Homo sapiens: one gene and its partners. The protein of the gene in region 4 purifies or fractionates together with the protein of the main gene of each other region. This does not show direct contact. Each region holds a gene or a part of one and is shown on either strand. Other genes may lie near its edges. The genes, in order: LEMD2, CRTAP, BEND3 and SATB1.

Region 1 (3,500 bases), on a different chromosome or scaffold from region 4:
CAACATGAAAAGGTGAGTGTCATCATTCTTCTGTGTTAGCAGCTTCAGTGAGCGCTGCTGCTGAGGATAAAATCCGTATTCTCCTCCGCCTTTTCTAACACAGGAAAATTGCTCAGCTACTCAGGGCAGCTTTTTTTTTTTTTTAAGCCAACAAATTTTAATCGTGCCATGCATCCAGTTATCCAGCTTGAGGTGGAGCTGCCCGAGGGGCTTCTGCTGGATGCAGTGCTGATGGAATTAGTAATTTGGGTGGATTAGAGAGGAAAAGAACAAAACTCTAGAGACGTTTTAATATCAAGAGCTATAACCTGAACAGAGACCCCCACAAACACCGAGAGTGGGAAGTGGGGAAGTGATGCTGCTCTGCCAGCAGGGGACAGGTCTCTCAAGGCTGCCTGGCTGTTGGCTGACACGCCCCTCCCCCTGGGCTGAGCCGCCAGATACAGCCTTTCAGCCTCATGAAAGGGTTTGCTACCTTTTCTAACAGTGCTCACCAGTGATAAAAATGAGGCAGAAACTGCCTGGTCAGAATAAAATCCAGTATTTCCTTATGCGATTTCCATAGTAAGTAAAACCAACATACAGAAAGAATAATTTCATCTACAAATAAAAACTAGCTCCCGAGGAGGGGAAGTGCAGAAAAATGCCTTCCCCAACAAACCATGTGGTGTTGTTGATGAATGAGAAAGGCACAGACTGAGTTACCTGAGACAGGATTTAGCTGGAACACCAGGCTAACATCCTAACACCTGGATTTTGTGTCTCATCTTGAAGCTGCTCCTTACACTGCATTCCAAATGCTTCTTGCTTTTGTTGCCCCACTTCCATCCTAACCCACATGATTCTGCTGGGAGACCCAGCCTCCAGCTTCAGACCTGAGACAGCTCTGTTGGAGCACGGGTGTTAGCTGACGAGCGAGGACAGTGGTTGCAGGCACCCATGCTGCGTCGCCACCCTGCCCACACTCACCAGATGCCCACGTCCTTGTTACTGCTCAGTATCCAGGTCAGTGCGGCTTCAAACTTGGCGGAGGAGCTGCTGGTCACATTCTGTGGGAGGGCGCGGGAGAAGGTTAGTTCGGCGTCTGGGCGGAGCAGCTGGAACATTATTCTGCTGCTGGATTAAGGAAGCCCTCTCCCGTGTCCTCCACAGCCCCAAAACCCTGTTCTGCTAAAAGCACAGCAAAGTGGCAGGAAGGAAATCGGGGGTTGATGAAAGCCAAGGAAGAGGCTATAACCAGAGGAGGTGATGCGGAAGCACAAGCAGGAAAACAGTGCGGGTCTGAGGCGGCCAAAAGAATATGATTCTCTCGAGGATGGAAGCATCAGGCCAGAGAGCTGGCAGCTCATCTTAGGGTAAAGCGAATAACAGCGTTGTGGCTGGGGGTGGGTGAGCCCAGTGGCCGGTGCAAGTGGTCTGGCCTCAGGCAAGTCCCTGACCCTCTCCAGGCCTCAGTTTCTTCATCTGTGAAATGCAAATGGAACCAGATGACCCCTAAGTTACTGGACAGGCAGGCGACCTGGAATACCAGCTCCATAGTTCTATAATCTACCATCCTGAGGCCACACAGGAAATCAGACGGCCCCTGGGCAGTCTGAATGGTAATCATACGGGGGAGAAGGGACAGCATGTTTCTCCTGAAAGCCGAAGGCAAGACGAGCAAAGTGAACCAAGGGAGAAGCAGGTAACAGGCACACCTACAGTGCAGCAGTCAGGAGTGAGCCGCCCCACTGCACATGGCGGCCTGGCTCTGGGGCAGTCACTACCATGGCTGCCTTAACTGAAGGTAGTCTAGCACAAAAAGCCATAAACCAAACCTTAACTTAAGGTAGCCTAGTACAAAAGCCACAAAGCAAACAAAAAACAAAAACCCCAACAGGGCTTGAAAGACCAATAGGAAAGCACCAGGCCCTCCCAGGAATGTATAAGCACTGAAGCCTACTTACGGCTATATATTCTTGGGCTTCCATAACAGGAATGCATTTGCTTTTTAGATTCTCTGGATTTCCACACTCAAAATTACCTAGGAGAAAAAAAACCACACATGCTCAAACACAAAGGAAAAATCACTCTGAAACAGACTAAAAAATGCAGCAAGAATCAAGCCATCAGCTCTAATAAGGAGCATGTTGCCCAGCGGCTCCTGGCTTCTGTGGGGCATCTTCACTCTGCAGCAAGATCAAAAGCCACTTAGCTTGGATCGATTCCAGATCATTAAAACCTGACCTGCAAAGCAGTGTGGCATTTTGCATTAAATGACTAAAAAGCTGCCCAATAGCAAGGTCTCTTTGCAATTGATCCCTAAAAGAATCAGACAGATAGCTTCGGAAGGTACCGGAATGGCACTATAAATAAACACAGCCTGAGAAAAAAGAAAGGCAGGGAGGCCATGGGCACCACGGGGATTCTGACTCATGACACAGGCAGGCGACCTGGAATGCCAGGTCTATTGTCTTGAGGGGCCCCTTGGAGGAAGAGGATGTCTGTGTGCTGGGCAGTGGGGCCTCAGCACAGCACGCCAAGGGGCAGCTCCCCCGAGTGGCTTTGGAGGCCTGCTCCCATAGGATGGAGCTGGCAGCCTCCCACTTAGTCCTGCCCAACCTCCCCGGTCCAGCCCAGGGGCCATCTCCCCTGGGAAGCCCTCAGCCCCTGGGGGCCTTTTGTTTGATGAAATGGCCCCAGATTTGGTGACCTGCCATAGCCCTTGGTCCTCGCTCCTGTGCTGTGGTTTGCCTGACTCCCCGAGAGCAGGGAGGGTGCAGGGCCACGCACGCATACACTATTTAACACGTGTGCGTGGCCTGACTGCCCTGACCCAGCACAGCCTGGGGGACTTCGGGTGGCCAGTGAGTGTGTTTCTGCATGCTGGGGAAGGGAGCAGCTGAAGGTCATATTTTAAAACTTTGAAACTGAACTGAAGCCTGTCGCCTTCCCCTAACACAGCCAGATCCTCCTACTTCAAAGTTGATCTTGACCCCAGGGGTCCCCTGAGACACAGGTGGCTTCTAGCATCCTCCTTTTCCCACTAGGACTCTTCCTGCCCTTGCCAGGCCTGCCTGGACCACGTAGATGGCCTCTCGATTCGGTTCCTCCTCTCCCTTTCCCAATCCAGTTGTTTTGTCAATAACACTTGAAAATGATTCTGCTTAACTGTGCTACTCAAGCTGCTGCCGCATTCACCTTCCTGGCACCTGGCTCTCAGCATGATACTCCCTTGCTCAAAGCCTCTCTGGCCCTCACTGCCTGCCAGATCAAGCTCTGGTGGCCTGGCATCCAAGGCCATCTATGGTAGGGCCCAACCAACACTTCCAAACTTCATTCTCTCATCTTCCCCTTCCTCCATGAAGGTGCTGCTTCCCACTCGAGATGTAATTTCCTGCCGCTTTGCCTTGTCCTTCCCCACATACATGTAACCAGTCTTACCTGGGCTTCAGGGCCTGGCACAGATGCTACCTCCTGTGACGCTCTCCTGACTGCTCCAGCTAAAAGGCATTGTGCCT
Region 2 (4,778 bases), about 15 Mb from region 4:
GCATGTGCCACCACGCCCAGCTAATTTTTTTGTATTTTTAGTAAAGCAAGATTTCGACCGATTGGCCAGGCTGGTCTCAAACTCCCGACCTCAGGTGATCTGCCCACCTCAGCCTCCCAAAGTGCTGGGATTACAGGTGTGAGCCACCACACCCAGCCTAATTTTTTTATTTTTTGTAGAGATGGGGTCTTGCTATGTTGCCCAGGCTGGTCTCAAACTCCTGGGTTCAAGTGATCCTCCTGCCTCAGCCTCCCAAAGTGCTGGGATTAGAGGAATGAGCCCCTGTGCCAGGCCCACTCTCTCTGCTTCTATTCAACATAGTACTAGAAGTTTTAACTAGAACAATTACGCAAGAAAAATAATACACATACACATACAAACTAATAAATAAGTTCAGCAAGTTTGCAGAATCAATACACAAAATCTATTGTATTTCTATTCTTTTAGAATATGCCCAAAAGTGAAAATAAGAAAACAATTTCATTTATAATAGCATCAAAAAGAATAAAATGCTTGAATACTAGGGGTTGGAAAGAATTTATTTTAATTTTTTAAAAAAGAATAGAATGTTTAGGAATAATAAAATAAGAAAACACTGTGAAATAAATTTTTAAAAAATCCAAATAAGTGGAAAGACTTCTCATGTTCATGGATTAGAAGACAATATTAAGAAGCCAATACTCCCCAAAGAGATTTATGTGTTCAGTGGAATTCCTATAAAAAAATCCCAGCTGCCTTTTGCAAAAACTGAAAAGCTAAACCTATAATTCATATGGAAATGTACAGGACCCAAAATAGCCAAAATCATCTTGGAAAAGAAGAACAACGTTGGAGGACTCACAATTCAAATTTCAAAATATAGTATAAAGCTACAGTAATCTAATCTTGGTTGAAAGTCCACGTAATTTAAAAAAAAAAAGCTATATTAATGAAGACAGTGTAGTACTAACTTTAAGGATAGAAATCAAGATGAGTGGTATAGACTGAGAGTCTGGAAAATTAACTCTCACATTTATGGTCAACTGATTTCTTTCAAAGGGTACCAAGACAATTCAATGGTGAAAAAGTCTTTTCAACAAATAGTGCTGTAACAACTGGCTATTCACATGCAAGAGAATGAAACTAGACCTCTTCCTAATATCACACATAAAATTAACTCAAATGGGTTGTAAATTTAAATGCAGGAGTTAAAATTACAAAAATCGTAGGAGTAAAAATCAGGAGTAAATCTTTGTGACCTTGGATTAGGCAATGGTTTCTTAGATATGACACACAACACAAAAGCAACAAAAGAAAGAACAGATAAATTGAATTTCATCAAATTTGAAAACTTGTGCTTCAAGACACCATTTAGCAACTGAAAAGACAACCCACAAATTGTGAGAAAATATCTACAATTCATATATCTGATAAGGAACTTATAACTAGAATATCTAAAGAACTTCTACAACACAATAATAAAAAGATAAGTAACAATTTTAAAGTGGACAAAAGATTTGAATAGACATTTCTTCAAAGATATACAAATGGCCAATCATGAAGGGATGCTCAACATAGTCACTAAGAAGGTGCAAGTCAAGCTGGGTGCAGTAGCTCACGCCTGTAATCCCAGCATTTTGGGAGGCTGAGGCGGGTGGATCGCCTGAGGTCAGGAGTTTGAGACCAGCCTGGCCAACATAGTGAAACTCCATCTCAACTAACAATACAAAAAATTAGCTGGGTGTGGTGGTGCGCGCCTGTAATCCCAGCTACTAGGATGGCTGAGGCAGGGAATCACTTGAACCTGGGAGGCGGAGGTTGCAGTGAGCCGAGATCGCACCATTGCACTCCAGCCTGGGCAACAAGAGCAAAACTCTGTCTCAAAAAGAAAAGAAAAACAACAGAAAGTGGAAGTCAGAACCACAATGAAATACTACTTGCATCCACTAGCATGGCTATTAAAAAAAAAAGACAATATTAAGTTTTGTTGAAGATATTGCAAAGTTGGAACTCTCATACACTGCTGATGGGAATGTAAATGGTGCAGCCACTTTGAAAAACAGTCTGGCAGTTTCTCAACAGGTTAAACCATTACCATATGGCCCAGCAATCCATTCCTAGGTATGTACCTGATATGGTTTGGATATATGTCCCCTCCAAATCTCATGTTGAAATGTAATCTCCGGTGTTGGAAGTGGGGCCTGGTGGAAGGTATTTGGGTCAGGTGGGCGGATGCCTCAAAAATGTCTTGGTGCTGTCCTCATGATAATAAGTGAGTTCTCACTCTGAGTTCACACAAGATCTAGTTGTTTAAAAGAGTGTGGCATGCTCTTGCCATGTGACATACGCCAGCTCCCCCTTTGCCATGACCATAAGCTTCCTGAGACCTCACCAGAAGCCAAGCAGATGCCATTGCCACACTTCCTGTGCCACCATGCCCAGCTAACTTTTAAATTTTCTGTAGAGACAGAGTCTCACTATGTTACTCAGGCTAGTCTTGGGCTCAAGCAATCCTCCTGCCTTGGCCTCCCAAAGTGCTGGGATTACAGGCATGAACCACTGCACCCAGCCAGGTATTTCTTTACAGTGATGCAAAAATGGCCTAACATAATACCTATGTATATACTCCTAGGTATAAAAAACTGGAAAGCTTATGTTCAAACAAAAATTTGTACACAAATGGTCATAGCATCATTATTCAAAATAGCCAAAAAGTGGAACCAACCCAAACATCCATCAACTGAAGAATGGATAAACAGAATGCGGTACATCCAAAAGAAGAATATTACTTGGTAGTACAGAGGAAATTTTACAGGCAACATGTTCAACATGGCTGAACTTTGAAAACATATGCTCAGTGAAAGAAGCCAGTCACAAAAGACCACATACCCTATATTTCCATTTATATGAAATGTCCACAACAGGCAAATCCACAGAAACAGAAAGTAGATTAGAGTCTTCCAGGGGCTGGAGGTGGAGGCAGGAGTGGGAATGTTGGCCCAGAGGAGAAATGGGAAGTGACTTAGCTATGGAGTTTCTTTTGGGGGCAATAAAAATGTTCTAAAGTTAAATAACAGTGATGGATGCAAAATTTTGTGGATATAACAAGTACAACTGAATTGTATACTTTAAAAAGGAGAATTTCATTTTTTGTGAATAATATCTAAATAAAGCTGTTTTAGAAAAATATAACAAGAGAAACTGCTCACATAATAATATAAAGTGAAAAAGTCATGAGACATAATTATAGCTGAGTTTATAATAAATATGTAGAAAAACAAATTTAAAACTATAAAATTTTTTCTTTAATAATAAAAAAATGGAAAGATATATACCAAAATATCCATATTAGCTTGCCTCTAGATAACTGGGAACTCAACTTCTCTTACCTTTTCTAAATATATTTTTCTATACTTTCCTTTTTTTTTTTTTTGAGGCAGGGTCTTACTCCAATTGCCGAGTCTGGAGTGCAATGGCGCAATATCAGCCTCAAACTCCCCAGACTCCTTCAGCCTTCCAAGTAGCTAGGACTACGGGTGCACTCCACCATACCCAGCTAATTTTTTTGTATTTTTTGTAGAGACGAGGTTTTACCATGTTGCCCAGGCTGGTCTTGAACTCCTGGTCTCAAGCAATCACCTGCTTTGGCCTCCCAAATGCTGAGATCACAGGTGTGAGCCACTACACCCAGCCTCTGCTATACTTTGTAAACCACAGTGGCCAATCTTGTTGGTATCTGGCTGGTGTTCCTTCCTTTAGGGAATGGGGGAATGGCCCCTGTGGCATCTTGGGATCCTGTCTCAGGCTCTGCTTCAAGGATACCCAAACCAAGACATAGGCATTGCATCACTTTCCAGTTTAGAAAGCATTTCCACATGCAACACAGTATTTTATTCTCACAACCCTGGGAGGGCAGTATTATTATTCCCATTTTATAGATAAAGAACTGAGACTCAGTTGTTTAATGCCAGTGATGAGTTCATCCCATACATATTTATAGACAGAAAACAAATTCCACGAAGATGTCTTATTCAGAGGTACTTCACCTAAAACGGGTATAGGAAGAGCAGACCTGGAGGCTCAGGAAACTTGCTGGCCCCATGCTCCTCATCTATAAAGCGAAGGATCAGACCAGAGCAAGCTCACAGCTCTCTTCGAGCTCCAATAGCTGACAAGTCCCCAGCTTTCTCAGTAAGCATTTTCCAGTTTGTTCCAAACAAATACTCTAAATACTACCGCTAATGATGGCTTTTCTGTGACCAGACTCATCACAAAATGACCACTCCATAACCAGTTGAGTCAGGGTCAGAAAAGGGGTCAGCTGAGTAAGGTGGAATCAGGAATTTCAAGCAATTCTAGAGAATGACAAAATGCTTACAGTAAAGATGCAATTTAGAAAAAATAATAATAGCAATAGTCTAGCAGAAAAATTGGGGTGTGAGTATCCATGTCTCTTCAGAGTGCTGAGCAATTAAAAATTCACTGTTTTTATATAAAGTGAAAAGATGAAGAATGACCACTGTGAATTCCTGGAGTGTGGCCCCACACCCGTTTCGCTATCAGGAAATGTGGCACTCCTGCCTAGGTTTCCTAGAAAGCCGCTCTTTCCCATGCCAGCATTCTGACTGTCACTGAAACACCCACAGGAACTGTCTTTCTCAAGGTCCCCTCTGTTTCTTACTTCAGGGAGGACTCAGCCTTCCAGTGATTCTAGCAAAGATGTGAGTAATATTTTCTCGTAGCCACCAGACATGTGCTAAGCATGAAAACTTACCTCATCATCATCCATTATATTTTCC
Region 3 (4,778 bases), on a different chromosome or scaffold from region 4:
CACTATAAACATGTATATTTAAATCTTGGTTAAAATCTTAGTCTCATCATTATGCAAATTAAAGCCTAACCAAATCCCTAAAATGTATAACTTCCTAATTTGTTTGGATCTGCCCTAACATCCAACAGGGGAGAGTTAAAACAAACCAATTAAACAAAGAGTTGGCTGTGCACTATGGCTCACGCCTGTAATCCCAGCACTTTGGGAGGCCAAGTCAGGAGGATCACTTGAGGCCAGGAGTTCAAGACCAGCCTGGGCAACATAGTGAGATCCAGTCTCTATTTAAATAAGTGAATGATAGATTTAATTTAGGAAAAGACCTGACCTCCAGCTAATGCCCCACTTTTGCAAGAATCAGCTACTATGTCAAGTGTGGTAGGCTTACGTTAACCGTCCTCACTATCAGCAAGCTCCTGCTTTCCCCCACAAAGCACAGCAAAATAACGCAAAAGCAGCTGCAATGTGAAGGCTCCCTTTACCCACCAGGAATCCCAACACAAACAAGAATTCCAGTTAAAGACAGACACTTTCGAGAAACTGAAGCCAGAGATGGGATAGCTTAAATGAAACCTTCCCATGCCCAAGGGTTCAGCAGTTGCCAGGATGCCCAAAACAAGAGGGAGATTCAGCATGGAATCAGAGAGGGTTAGAGCCCAAGCAAAGAGTGACAGCAGCTAGGCCCTCACCTCGGGGATCAGCCGCCTCCTCTTCACGCCGGGGACAGAGTCTAGCAGGCCATCGCTGACCAGCTGCTTTCGTTTGCTGGAGTCCTGCAGGGCAGTGAGGACGCTGTCCACAGAGTGCTTCTCAGAAGTCCTGGAATTCACGGAGCAGTCCAGAGCAGCATCTTCAGCCTCTGTCTCCACTTTCACAGTGATACTTTTTAGAACTGTGTCAGAGAAGAAATAGGGCTCAGTGGGAAAAACCAGGGCTGCTCAGAGATCAGCAGGGTTCTCTGAGCAGCAGGGTGTCTGTGGGCCGCCCTTTGACACCAGTGCTGAGATAATGATGTCTAGTTGTAACAAACCTGAGCTTTCCAACGATGCAATCTTTATCTCACCGCACTAGTGCTGTACAATAAAGCCATGTTCCAAGAGCATTTAGTTCAAATTGGTTTAAACATCTTTTTTTGGGGGGGAAGACAGTGGAAGGAGAGACATAAAATATTATCTTTTTGTGCTTTAAAAAAGTAATTTTTAAAAAGTGACACAAGGTGCTTATAACAAGTGTGTGGGTGGAGGGGGATGGGAACCGGGGAACAAGTGTGTGGGTGGAGGGGACTTTTCACTATATAACTTTGTATATTTTTGGACCATGTGAATGTATGACCTGATCAAAAGTATTCAGTTAAAAACATTTTTCAAAAAGGGCATTTTTTTTTTACCTTCTTCTACATCTTCGGTGAATTCAGTTGAGTTCATCTTCTATTCCGCTAAATAAAAAGACAAAGACAATGTGTTGACTTATTGCTTGATTTATTTCTTAATTTTCTCTACCCACAGAAAATCCTCTTACCCTCCCAACCCCAGCTCTAGGTAACAGAGCAGCACAGCACTGTGGAAGCTATGTGTCCTCCTAATCTTGTCTGCAGACACTCAGGAGCAGCCAGGCCTTGTGCATCCCTGCTGGGAGCTCTTCTCCAAGACTTTATGTGAGCAGAATGTGTCTTACAGCATCCACTGATAGCCACTTACTGAGCCATGGGAACATTACAAGAACAAATCAACTCTTAAAAAAGACCCCAATTTTAATTATCTCTTTTAAGTCCATGCTTATAAATTCCAGCCACAAAACAAATAGGCTGAAGGATGGGGGCCATGGATCCTGAAATCTTAGGACTTACGGTTGTCAAGAGAACTGTGCTGCCCATGACCTGAAGGTGGCTACTAGCCACACCTGGCTACCAAGGACTCAAAATGTGGCTAGTCCAATGGAGATGTGCTATAAGTGTAAAATACACACCAAATCTCAGACTTAGTAACAGAAATGCAAAATATCTCACTAGTAATTTTTTTTTTTTTAGAGGAAAGGTCTCACTCTTTTCACCCTGGCTGGAGTACAGTAGCACTATCATGGCTCATTGCAGCCTCTGATTCCTGGGCTCTAGCAATCCTCCTGCCTCAGCCTCTAGAATGGCTAGGACTACAGGTACCACATGCCGCCACCCACAGCTAATTAAAAAATTTTTTTGTAGAGATGCGGTTTCACTATGTTGACCAGGCTGCTCTTGAACTCCTCAAGCGATCCTTCCACCTTGGCCTCCCAAAGTGCTGGGATTACACATCTGAGCCACAGTGCCCAGTCCTAATAATTGCTTTATATTGATTACATGTTGAAATGATAATATTTTGGACTTACTGGGCTAAATACAATACTTTATTTCATTTATTTGTTTATGAAACGGAATCTTGCTTTGTCACCAGGCTGGAGTGCAGTGGCGCAATCTTGGCTCACTGCAACCTCCGCCTCCTGGGTTCAAGTGATTCTCCTGCCTCTGCCTCCAAGTGATTCTCCTGCCTCTGCCTCCCGAGTAGCTGGGACTACAGGCATAAGCCACCACTCCCGGCTAATTTTTTGTATTTTTAGTAGAGACAGGGTTTCATCGTGTTAGCCAGGATGGTCTCGATCTCCTGACCTCATGATCCGCCCACCTCAGCCTCCCAAAGTGCTGGGATTAGAGGTGTGAGCCATTGTGCCCAGCCTAAGCTTCATTAGAAAGGTGGGCAGTGCTCTGTTCCAGGCTGCAGGGTCTGAAGCAAAACCTGCCTGCCTCAGCTGGAATGGAACTGACACCATGAGGCAAAGCACCACTAAAACAAAACAAACAAAATTACCACTAAGTCTCTGATATCTCCGAATACCATGACAGCATGTACATAAATAGTACAAGATACAAAGGTAGTAACATTTGGAGAATATACATTGCAATCTTTAATGTTGACACTTGGGAGTTGTGATCCCCACAACTGATTAAGCTGACTACAAACACAGAGTTCTCATTTTGGTTGAGGATGAGTGGAGAGCAGGACCAAGAAGTATCTCTTAAGAAATTTCTGGCCGGGAATGGTGGCTCGTGCCTGTAATCCCAGCACTTTGGGAGGCTGGGGTGGGCGAATCACCTGGGGTCAGAAGTTCAACACCAGCCTGGCCAACATGGTGAAACCCCATCTGTACTAAAAATACAAAAATTAGCTGGGCATGGTGGCACACGCCTATAGTCCCAGCTACTTGGGAGACTGAGGCAGGAGAACTGCTTGAACCCGGGAGGCAGAGGTTGCAGTGAGCCAAGATCACACCACTATACCCCAGCCTGGGTGACAGAGTGAGACTCTGTCTCAAAAAAAAAGAAAGAAACTCTGTAAGCATGAAGCCATCTAAAATGTTCAGTGAACCATTCAAGGAGTAGCCACAGAATGGTGTGTGTTTGACATACAGTACCTGTTTTAGACAGGTGAATGGGGTGGGGATGGCAGCAAGAGGGAGAGTGTGTCTGGGTGATCCATGAGCACAATCATCACTGCAAAGGTTACTAATAATGGCAACACATACAGTGCTTATGATGTGAAGCACTATTTTTAGTTCAAGAACAGTGCACAATAGTGCAAGACAGGCACAATTCTTTTCATCCCTGTATTGCTAATTTTCAGAGGAATGAAAACCAAAATGAGATTTGAAACTGAAAATAATTCCTACTCACCAAGCCATCTCCTACCTGAAAAAACATTACACACAGGGTGATATTGACAGAAAACAAATAATAAGTCAACTTCAAGGGTCCGAGAACTATTTTACCAGAGTCAAATTTTAGCAACTCCTTCCACTGTATTTCAAGGAACTACACCTCACTTTGGATCGCCATCATCTGAGCTGGGTGTCTCTGAGTGGCTAGAAGGGCTGGACAATGCCAGGCAGAAATTCAAGACCGGATTCCCAGCCTGGTAGGAGGCCTCTCAAGGAAACACACTGCAGGTCACCTGAATGCCCCTGCCCTTGGAAACTGCCATGGTCACATAACCCATTCCTGCCAATCAAGGGGAGTTCTGAGATGCAGAACAGATGGGGCAAAACGATGGCTGTCAGAGGCGGACATACTTTACAAAACAAATTACATTTGGCAGAGAAAAGGCAGAGAGGGAGGAGACAGCGGTTGGTTTATTTGGGGAGGAAAAGGGTCATGGTGAAAGAAAAATTGCAAAGAGTCAAAGATTCTGGTAAGTGGAAAGCACTAAAAGGATGGGCAAATACTAGAACAAAACAAAACAGGCGTCGATGAGAGAACACAGCAGACAGGGCCATGGGTGGTGAGAAGGGCAGTCTATTTATCTGCCATTATATTCGCCCAACCATGTGTCTCTGGCAGGCCCATCACATAGGGAGCAGTGCAGGGCTGGAGTCCAGGCTGCCACATGGAGCCTGCCGGGAATGTGGCTTGGTGAGCAGAAAACCTATTTTCTGATTTTTTATTTTTCCTTGTTTCCAGTGGGGTTGGAAGGAGGCTATTTTCTGAACCACCACCATGTGACCCTACAGCAGGCAATTTGGCCTCTGAATTTTGAGCCCCTATAAAGTGATGAAGGAAGAGCACACATCTCAGCCACCTGCAGTGGGCAGAAACCCCAGAGGGCTCATGCAGCTGAGGTGGGAGGAAGGGGTGCTGGTGCGGCTGCCTGGGCATTCAAGACACCGAGTGCTTGTGCTTTGGAAAACACTTCCGTGTCCATTTATAGACTAGTGACAGATGCTAGGTTAGCCCAGAAGTAGCCCAGAACACAGCATGG
Region 4 (4,778 bases):
TAATAGCACTCAGAAGACAAATCTAAAAATTAGCCAGCGGAGTCTTCCACTGAACTGTTTTTCCTGTAAACAGTCCTTTGCCTCTTTTCCCCAAGGGAGAAAAAGCCTATAGGCTCTGTTCACAAGGAATCAGGCATATTTTAAAAGGTCACCAGTGGTCAAGTCACTTTGCATTTTTGGCAGATTCTTGCTTCAGATACCAGTTGCTTTAAACCAGGGAGCTCCATCAAACCTCAAATCAGGGTTGCCCATGATGTCTTATTATTTATTACATTCTATGCTAAGTACCTGTGAAAGGGGGCACTCCTTGGCCAATGAACTCTGATTCATATCTTTCAGTAAGTCCTTCAGAGCATTCCTCACTGTGGTGTGCGACCATTGTTCGGGAGGCAAGTCTTCTAGTTTGGGGCAACTATTTGAGACATAGATTAGAAAGGGGATTATTACAAGATTGCATCCCGCTGCAGAACATTCCTTTAAGACAGACAGATTTCATTTTGCGCATCAAACAGATGCATCTGGAGATTGCTCTCGGTCTCCTGATTGTTCCGATTAGTTAATTACTTTATACAACACATCTGCTGTATCGATGCATGAATTATACATCAGCTGCCTGTGGTGGCTATTTTTTCATGTTACTTCTACCTTCCTGCTCTGATGCGCTTGGGAAGACAATTTAAGGTGTACTGCTTTCTCCTGAGCCATCATGAAAAGCTTTAATGTATTAACCGATTTCCTTTCATTACTCTGTTCATATGAATTAAAAATCATAAAAAAATAAATAAATAAATAAGACTGTGGTAATAGTGAATAAGACAGTCTTTCACAAAATGTACACAGATGGCACTGTTCATGATATGCAAAAATATTTTTTTCTTAAGTAAACTTTATGTAAAATGCCTTCTTGTGATGCATTATTTAATTGACTAAACGTAAAAAGTCTTGTCTTTTGATAACCTGCACAAACCTACACATTTTTTGTGTGTGTGGGGGGGGGGATTGCTTTTAAATTATACATTGAAGTTAGGAAAAAAGGCAGAAGGATAGGGTAACAAAATCGATCTGTATTAACCTTTCTGAAACACAGACTAAAAAAAAATTGAAGGTCGACCAGAGAGAAATGCTTCATTTCAAAAGACCAGGTAAGAAGAATGTTTCACCCTAGATTTGCTGTCTTGACTCACCTGTGTAACTGAATTTTCAATGTGACCACATGATACACATCTTGAAGCATATCTGCTACTGTAGCATCAGGGGCATCTGTCACGTAAGACAGTGGAACTGGATTCCACTTTCCAACCTGGATTAGCCCTATTTCAGATAAAGAGAATATGTCACTAAATATTTTACCCTCAGATAATATATCTACTAGAAGGGTGTTCTTTTCTTTTCTACTACCCCTACCACAAGCAGTACCGTTATTTCTGTTTGAATGATTCCCTTCCCTCTAAAAGGCAGGTCAATGAAAATATTCACAGCTTAGCTTTCCAAATTGTAAAATTATGTAAATGACTGTAGGGTTGTTTATTATTTTGGAAATAAAACCCCATCAATAAAACCTATGCATAAGGCCACATTTTCCTAACTTACAGGAAGTTCTAATAAGACATAGCCGAACCAGTTCTAAATGGCTTTATGATTTAGATAAGATTCTCTATTGCAGTGGGAATCAGCATTGAAAAATACTTTGCAGCCCATAAAACCATCAGAAACAGAATAAAAGAAACAGAACTAGATATTCAGTCATAAATGCAAATTGACTCTCAACAGTCCATCTGCTCAAATACGCTCCTCACTTCCTTGTGGGTCCTCAGTGGAGCAGATTATTAAGGTCAATAAGCATACTAATGATTCAGCTGAAGTAATTTAAAAAAAAAATCTACCTCGACATTCCACATGAGCAAAATGTGTGTTAACTAAACCAAACTGAATTAAGCCAATTTTTTAAAGCCACAGCCTATAAGGAACCAATGTAATACACAGGCTACAGTTCTTTGAATAAAAATATTCAGTGCTTTCTCTGCAAGGTAAACAAAGAATGCTAAGCAATTTTTCCAACCCCACGTACACATTATTTACCTTTGGCCTGGGCAGCAGAGCTATGTGAATAACCTAGAGACAGCAATGCCATTTCGATCAGCTGGTTGAAAAGCATATCCTTTCTCACCAGCACAAATTCTGCATGCTCCTCCTTGCAATCATATTCAATGGCGTTTTCATAATGTTCCACCACACAGAAAACTGGCAGCATGGTTCCTATCAAAAAGATGAAGAAGAAGAGATGGAAAACCAACAATCTTCAGAAATACAGCTTGGGGGTGGCGGGAGGAAATATTAGCCATGAAAATAAATAATCACAAGAGATTCACTGTGCTTCCAAGGCAGACTGGGTACAGTACAGGCAAATGCACACAAATATATACATTCTCATATTATTTAAAGTCGTAACAGAAATATTTAAGTAGAATATGAACTTGGTCCTAAGGTAAGCTGTGCTCTAAATTAACAGTGCATTTTCCAAAAGCAATGAATGCAGAATTACCTTTCTGATCAAATAATAATGGTGACGAAAGAGAAATAAATGTATCTTCTCTAATTTGCTATGAGTAGTATACAGTATGCAAACATAACTCACCATTTATCTTCAGAAGAACCCACCTTTCTACTGCTTACATGATTTTGTTAATAATAAACTTTTCCTGGGTTTGTGTCCAAACAAATTATCTTCGACCACGAAATTTTCATTTTCTTCCTTTTTTAGATATTAACTCTAACTGGTTCCACAAATCATTTTCTTCCTTTTTTAGATATTAGCTCTAACTGGTTCCACAAAAAGTACTTAACCAAACTGGTGCTCATAATACACAATTTCAATATCTGCATAATGTAGAAAAATAACATTTGCTTTTATGAATACTCATTTAACCTACCTAACTAAAAAGAGAGCACGGTACCCATAAGTCTTTAAAATCAACAATCTTTGTTACAGTAAATAAGGTAAAAATGAGAGATAGAAAAGGAAACTGACATACTAGGATAAAGGAATCTGCATAGATTTGGTGTGCTCTCTCTTTATATATTTTAATCCAATACAGTAACTCAGTAGCTAGATGATTAATAAGCACCGGCCACACTACTATTAGAAAGAGGCTTCTTCTAGAAATTGATATTACGGAATGCTGTGGTACTCAAGGTGTTTATGCAGCGCACTGTCAGACTTCCAATGATAACGGAAAAGGGTTAAAAGCAGATGCATCTGAATTGTACTGTGGCAAACTGCCAGAAGGGTATCATCTTTAGCATAAATGATGACAAGGGTTACTTTAACAGGGCACCCAGGATCCACAATTAGTCCTACAATACTAATGCCTCTATAAGCTCTGTCCTCTGGACTCACAGAATCCTACCAACTTCTGAAGATGACTTAGTGCACACCAACCGTAGCTAAAAATCAGGATTTCCTACTGACACCAGAGAGGCCCTTCAAAGATTCTCTATTTGCTTGTTTCTGCTGAACAAAAGCCGGCAATAAAACAGCTACATCTTTCTACATGTGAGTCTTCACCAAAGCTTTAGTGAACTGTTCACAAGAGATTCTAGGTCTGACAAAACCCTTTAGGTTTACTTAGAAAAACTCACAAACTCATTCGGAGGTACCAATAGGCTAGGCATGAAAAACAAGCCGCAGAGCTTGCCAATATTTTTGTCATTCATTCAGCTGTTTTATACCAGAGAAAGAACCCGTCGGGGATCAGAAGACAACTTGGGGAGACCACAGCAAAAATAGCAATATGCAAACTGGCGATTCCTTCCTTGGCTTGAAGGTATTCTGGCAAAATCGCCTAAACAAATAAAACCATTCAATCCCTTTTTCTTAGTAGTGTTTTCTCATCTCAGCCATAATTTTCATTTAGCACCTATCAGACAGAAACCATGCACATGAAAAATAAGATGAAAATGTTAATAAAAACCCACAAAAAGACTTTAGTAATTTTGTTATTTGGAGTATCTGAGACCCTCCTACAATTAAACTGCATTTTTAGAATACATCCAAAACAAAACAAAACAAAACCAAAAAGCATTTGAGCAGGAAGTGAATTTACTGTACTTTTAGTTTTCCTCCTCCTGTCCTGATATCTTCAAAGAGTTGGGTAAGTACAACAAAAATGTACACATTCATTTTTCCTTTTGTAGGATGAATCAGATGTATTCTACAATATGCTTTTCCTTAGATCTATGAAATAACTGCAGGGTTTTCAAACTATTGAAATATATTGGATTTATTGTGGATTTTATTGATCATGTTTAGAGGTACCCTAAAATAATAAAGACGGCTATAAAGTGACAATAGTACTATCTAATTACAGACCTTCTAGCAAACTGTTGCGGTTACCCTCCCGTTTCTGGGAGTAATGCTGAACACAAGCCTTTTCTGAACTGTATGATTATTCGTGCTAGTGTTTGGCGAGAGTTCCAACTACAGCAACTTCATAACCTTCCAGCATTTAAAGGGGAGAGCACTGGTCACTGCTGAATGCTAAAAATACCACATGATTTAAACCTGAAGGCAGTCTTAGAAGCTTTTGCTGAAGGTTTATGAGCCTGTGTAAACAGCACGTCTGCCATAAGGAGCAGTGAAGTCTGTAGAATCCTTGTCTAAAACTGTCCTGGCATTAAAGTTTGCTGTGCAAATATCACATAATACCAGAGACAGCTGAAATCTCCTATTTAGGAATTTATGGAACTTACATGTTTGCAGGCGTCAGAAAGTCTTTTTT

What was found.
Region 1: the proteins of SATB1 (region 4) and LEMD2 purify together in Homo sapiens (affinity purification with mass spectrometry, with the first as the bait; one large-scale study listed by BioGRID). This does not show direct contact.
Region 2: the proteins of SATB1 (region 4) and CRTAP purify together in Homo sapiens (affinity purification with mass spectrometry, with the first as the bait; one large-scale study listed by BioGRID). This does not show direct contact.
Region 3: the proteins of SATB1 (region 4) and BEND3 purify together in Homo sapiens (affinity purification with mass spectrometry, with the first as the bait; one large-scale study listed by BioGRID). This does not show direct contact.

The regions. Positions count from the first base shown.
Region 1 is NC_000006.12:33,779,131-33,782,630, forward strand, and holds part of LEMD2 (LEM domain-containing protein 2), read right to left. Parts: intron 2,024-3,500; coding exon 1,947-2,023; intron 1,050-1,946; coding exon 970-1,049; intron 1-969. UniProt on the Homo sapiens protein: Nuclear lamina-associated inner nuclear membrane protein that is involved in nuclear structure organization, maintenance of nuclear envelope (NE) integrity and NE reformation after mitosis.
Region 2 is NC_000003.12:33,134,241-33,139,018, reverse strand, and holds part of CRTAP (cartilage-associated protein isoform 1 precursor), read right to left. Parts: coding exon 4,754-4,778; intron 1-4,753. UniProt on the Homo sapiens protein: Necessary for efficient 3-hydroxylation of fibrillar collagen prolyl residues.
Region 3 is NC_000006.12:107,097,865-107,102,642, forward strand, and holds part of BEND3 (BEN domain-containing protein 3), read right to left. Parts: intron 1,433-4,778; 5' UTR 1,422-1,432; coding exon 1,385-1,421; intron 890-1,384; coding exon 687-889; intron 1-686. UniProt on the Homo sapiens protein: Transcriptional repressor which associates with the NoRC (nucleolar remodeling complex) complex and plays a key role in repressing rDNA transcription.
Region 4 is NC_000003.12:18,414,823-18,419,600, forward strand, and holds part of SATB1 (DNA-binding protein SATB1), read right to left. Parts: intron 2,257-4,778; coding exon 2,080-2,256; intron 1,312-2,079; coding exon 1,185-1,311; intron 413-1,184; coding exon 289-412; intron 1-288. UniProt on the Homo sapiens protein: Crucial silencing factor contributing to the initiation of X inactivation mediated by Xist RNA that occurs during embryogenesis and in lymphoma.